2 separate regions of the Homo sapiens genome follow, and region 1 is linked to region 2. Evidence: fine-mapped expression QTL. Tissue or cell type: esophagus mucosa. Region 2 holds a variant in brackets; the other region holds the start of a gene. All regions are shown on one strand. Distances are from middle to middle.

Region 1 (2,684 bases), 620 kb before region 2:
AAAAAGACAACAGCAGAGAATGATATCTCAGAGCACTGCTCCAGGCATAGCAGTTCCCTAGTAAATCTTGAAATCTCATCAAAATTGTGAGGGTTAGGCTGAGCAAGGTGGCTCATGCCTGTAATTCCAGCACTTTAGGAGGCCTAGGTGGGAGGACTGTTTTAGCTCAGGAGCTCAAGACCAGCCTGGGCAACATAGCAAGACCCACATCTCTCCCAAAAATAAACAAAAAAATTAGTTTGGCATAATGGCATGTGCCTGTAGTCCCAGCTACTCAGGGGGCTGAGGTGGGAGGATGGCTCACAAACCTATGTGAGGTAAGGCTGCAGTGAACCATGATGGTGTGACTGCACTCCAGCCTGGGCAACAAAGCGAGACCAAAAAAAAAAATGTTAGAATCAAGGGACAAAGTACATGTAAGAGGTTTAGAATAGCACTTGGTACAGGAACAGTGAGTGCTCAATAAATTATTATTAGGTCTCCTCCACCCAGGGTAGGACCTGGGTTTCTGTCCTGAATTGGGACTTCCAAGACAATCACTCCCACACTCAATGTAGTACAGAGCTCTGTGAGTGATCTCTGCCCATGTTCCCCAGGGACACTTCAGCCTGGGTGCTGGGCCTGTTTCCGGTTTTACTGGGGTGGGCTTAGAGCTGTACTTCTACGGGGTTCTCTTTCCTCTCAACGTTGGTTTCCCTCCCAACCCTCACCCCCAACCCCAGGAAGCTCAGTTTACAAGTGCGGTCGGTACCCTCATTTGGTGTTTTTATTGGCTTTTCTGATAGCCCCTGGACTAGACAATTACATTGAAATTCAGAAGCAGCATGCACTTTTTGGCATTGATGTCTTTAATTAAATTCAATAAGCACTTATTGAGCACCTAGAGTGTGTAAAATACTGTTCCTTTAAATACATTTAGTCCTGAACTGTTTTAGCTTCTTAGTTTGGATTAGTGCTGATCCATTTCTTAAAGGTTTTATGAAGCATAAATATCAAAATGGAAAAATATTTGCACAGTTCTTTGTAAATATAAACGTCTTGTGTGGATTATTGTTGCTACAGTATTAATATTAACTGCAGTAACAACACTGCTGCTTCCCAGACAGGCGGTAGAAAGCAGCTGTAGGCCAACAGGAGCCAGACTGAAGAGATCCAGGGAGGTGCCTCCAGCACGTACGGCCCACAAGGGGCGGAGTCTTAAGAAGCGTACCCAAGCCCCACCCCTTACAGCACCCCCTTCGTCAGGGCGGTGTAGGCGGTTACCATGGCGATGACGTCCAGAGGGCGGGGAGGGGCGGGGCTATGGAGAGGAGGAGGAAGATGGCGGGCGGGCTGCTCTGAAGAGACCTCGGCGGCGGCGGAGGAGGAGAGAAGCGCAGCGCCGCGCCGCGCCGGGGCCCATGTGGGGAGGAGTCGGAGTCGCTGTTGCCGCCGCCGCCTGTAGCTGCTGGACCCGAGTGGGAGTGAGGGGGAAACGGCAGGATGAAGTTCGCCGAGCACCTCTCCGCGCACATCACTCCCGAGTGGAGGAAGCAATACATCCAGTATGAGGTACCGGCACGGCTGGGGTGTGGGAGGACTCGGAGGGGCCACCATCTCGCCAGTCCTGACGTCCACCGCCGCCTTCCGCTTCAGCTGGCTCCCTGTGCCCGGGCAGACTTTGACCCGCTGCCGCGGGGAGCCACTGCGGCATCCCCGCCGCGGCCGGCCGCCTCCCGGCTCCGCTGTCCTTCCCCTCCCCCGCAGCCCCGCTGCCGCCGGGGTAACGGATATGCAGGCGGAGGGCCGGGAGGAAAGGCGCTGCCCGGGCCGGGGCCGGGGCCGGGGAACGGTGGGAGGGTGAGCTGCAGGTGGGGGAGTCACGGTGCGAGGGCAGCCCCGGGTCGCGGCTGTTCCGCGCTAATCCCCTTCTCCCCACTCGCCCTGACCTCTCGTCCCCACCCTGGGCGAGCGCCCCCTCGCCAAGGTTAGGTCTTGTTTCTCTCTCTACACCTCTCACCAAGGAATCCTTGTCTTCCAAGAGAAGCCCCTCCAGTGATTTCCTTCATTCCAAAGAGCCCTTCGGCTTTTTCCCACTTGCCCACTGTTGACAAAGGCTTTGTAACGGGGTTGAAACTTGACTTAAGTGTGTATCACATATGTAGTGGTTATAGTTTTTGTAAACACGTTGTAATCAACTATTCTGCTTTGATAATAAGACTCTTTTTACTGATTGCATGAAGTCTACAGAGTAATAACATCTTTGTTTTTGCCTCTTGTTTTGGAATGGAGGGAAGAGAAAGGAGAGAAGAGAATTATTAACATTTTTTTATTTTCTGCTAAGTTTTTGCTAGCTGGGGAGAAAATTAGTATATTGTAAACAATATACCTTACCTGTGTATTACAGAAATCATGCTCCCCATTCCCTCCCAATTTCTGTGCTAACACTGCTGGAAGGTATTTAATAGATAATAAGGAACCTTACATTAATAAAGGGAAAAATAAAGATAATGAACCCATTTATATGTTCAGAAGACAAGATACCTAAGAGGCTTTAAGCATTGCAATAGGTTATTCTCAGTAGCTGGCAATTCAGCTCCTGGATAGAGAAAGACAGACTTATCTGTAACCTCCAGGAATTCACATCTGTTTTGTGTGCAGGAACAAAGAATATAAAATCAATATGAACACACATAACTTAGCTA
Region 2 (2,684 bases):
CGATATGTGATGTCACCCCTGGCGGCCCAGCTGTAAAATTCCTCTCTTTATACTGTCTCTCTTTATTTCTCAGTTGGCTGACACTTATGGAAAATAGAACCTACGTTGAAATATTGGGGGCGGGTTCCCCTGATAAACAAAGAACCGCATCCACTATTTTCCAGGTCGTGTTCTAGATGCAGAGAATTAGTAGTGAAACAAACAAAGTCCTGTCCCCATAGTTTACATTTTAGAGGAAGGAGACAGATAATTAACAAGTCTGAAAGTTTATCAGGTGGTGATAAGTCTGATGAAGAAAACAAGGCATGTTAAGATGATAGAGGAAGTGCATCAGTCAGGAGAAGCTAGATGAAACTGCAGTAACAAACAACCCCCAAATCTCAGGGGCTGATTTTTTTTGTTCATGCTCCATGTTAATTGTGGGGTGGGCAGGTGGGCTCTATTCTGCATCTTTCTCACTCTGTGATCCAGGCTCACTGAGTCCTCATCCTTTGGACTATCACCAGTCATTACAGCAGGCAGAAGGAGGAATGTGATGACTCATGTTGGAAGAGGGGAAACCAGGGATATTGATGTGCTGAGTAATCTCTGCTTGCTCCAGATCTGTTCTTATAGCTCTGCTCTGCTCCACTCTGTGCTCTTGAGCCTGAACTCCATGGATTGCATCATCAGGGCTCTCTGCCCTCTGATTTCCAGTTGTATTTGGAGGCATCATCAGGAGACTCGAGGGTGGGAAGAGAGCCAGGTGCTTGCTCTGTTGCTCTCTGCTTGGCCACAGTTTTGCAATGATTGTTTTCCTCAGGCCACAGCGCCATCAAGCACTCTCACTTCCATGGCTCTGGCTCTCAGAGGGGCTCTGGTAACACCAGTTTCTCCTCTTGCAGGACTAACCGTGGTATTGGCTTCCTAGTGTGGCTAGTTTTGAGGGGCCTTAAAATCTCTTCTTGGTTTCCTCCTTGAGTAGAATATTCATGGAAAGATCTCTCCAAAGATCATTGCTGAATGTTCTAGCCACTTCTTGCTGGGACCCTCAAATATAATAGGTCAAAGGATTTGTGTTACAGAGGCCCCCTCTGAGGACATGACATTTGAAGCGAGGGAGAAAGTCAAGCAGGTGCTGGGTGTGGTGGGTCATGCCTGTCATCCCAGCACTTTGGGAGGCCAAGGCAGGTGG[A/G]TCACCTGAGGTCAGGAGTTTGAGACCAGCCTGGCCAACACGGTGAAACTCCATCCCTACTTGCTACCAAAAAATACAAAAATTGGCGGGGTGTGGTGGCATGTGCCTATAGTCCCAGCTACTGGAGAGACTGAGGTGGGAGAATTGCTCCTGTCACGTAGGAGCTGAAGCTGCCATCCACAGAGAATTGCTTGAACCCAGGAGGTGGAGGTTTCAGTGAGCCGAGATCACACCGTGGCACTCCAGTCTGGGCAACAGAATGAGACCCTGTCAAAAAAAAAAAAAAAGTCAGGCAGGTATTGCAGTGGGGAAGGAAGATGGTTCAGATTGAAAGGAGAACTTAGCAGTGGGAAAGTGGTTCTTGGCACATTCAAGGAACAGCAACAAGGCGGCCATGGCCAGAGCTGACTGAGCTGGTGGAGAAATGATAGGAATCAGGGCCAGAGAGGCAGAGGCCCAGATTACACCAATGTTTTTCTAGGTGATGAGAGAAACTTTAGATTTTATTCTGAGTGACACAGGAAAGCACTGGGAGCTTTTGAGCCATGAGGAACATCATCTGGCTTACAATTTTAAAGGATAGTTCTGATTTTAAGGGCAAGATGGAGCAAGGAGATTGATTAGGAGGCTGATGCAAAAGTCTCAGAGGGAGAAGCTGGTGGCTCAGACCAAGGTGAGAGCAATGGAGTTGGTGAGAGGTGATAAATTAGGGTCTTAGTTTTAAGGTGGAGATAACACAAACTTTGCTGACTGGTTGGATGTTGGCATGAGAGGAAAAGAGAACTCAAGAACTCCAGAGATTTGGCCTGAAATGGGAAGACTGAGGGAGATGCAGTTTTTCTGAGAGATTAGGGTGGAACTCAAGTGTTCAGTTTTGCTCATATTTAGTTAAAGATTCCCATTAGACCTTAAAGGGGAGATGTCGAGTTTAGATTTAGTTAAAGATTACCATTAGAACTTGAAGGGGAGATGTTGAGCTGTGGTTAGAGGAACAGGTCAGAGCTAGAAATACAAATTTGGTGGTTTCTGATTGCAAGTGGTGTTTAAAGCCAAGACATGTGTGAACTCCTCAAGGGAGTAAGAGCGACAGAAGAGGTGTGAGGATTGAGGACTGGGGCATTCCCACATGCGAAGGTGTGGAGGACGAGGCGCCAGCAAGGGAGGTAAGGAAGGGTGGATGGAGGAGGAGAATTAAGTGAAGAAAGTGTTTCAAGGAGGAGGGAGTAGTCACCTGCTGTGATGCTGCTAGGAGACCGAGAGGCTGCTCCTCCAAGAAGTCTGCTCTATCCCCTCAAAGTGGACCCTTGGCTTTTTCCTGCACTCCTGCACATCCACTGCTGATTCTCTGTATTGTAGTTATCTTCTGTCACATCCATCTCCCCCTCTGTACCCCAAGTTCCTTGAAGATTGTGTCTTGTTAATGACACTGAGCTCATGCCATGCATACAGTGGTATTAAGTTAACGAAATTCACAAAACACAGGACTCAACCAAGGGGATGTGCACCTCCC

Which allele goes with the higher level. Positions count from the first base shown, and alleles are read on the strand shown. Sizes are in standard deviations (SD) of each study's normalised expression.
For the expression in esophagus mucosa of the gene that starts at base 1,303 in region 1, allele G in region 2 goes with a lower level than allele A (moderate effect, 0.49 SD a copy in GTEx).

Evidence for each region. PIP is the estimated chance that this variant, and not a neighbour inherited with it, causes the effect.
Region 1: XPR1 starts here. The variant in region 2 is fine-mapped to the expression of XPR1 in esophagus mucosa (GTEx, PIP 0.96).

Annotation. Positions count from the first base shown.
Region 1 is chr1:180,630,720-180,633,403 of GRCh38, forward strand. XPR1 (xenotropic and polytropic retrovirus receptor 1) reads left to right here and starts at 1,303. Exons shown (of 15, transcript NM_004736.4): 1 at 1,303-1,551. The coding sequence starts at 1,483. RefSeq lists enhancers at 1,167-1,667, 1,668-2,168 and a silencer at 1,663-2,042.
Region 2 is chr1:181,255,098-181,257,781 of GRCh38, forward strand. No RefSeq gene overlaps it. Among named protein-coding and RNA genes, the nearest start is that of LINC01699, 20 kb to the left of the region's middle. The variant A/G (reference allele first, on the strand shown) is at 1,175.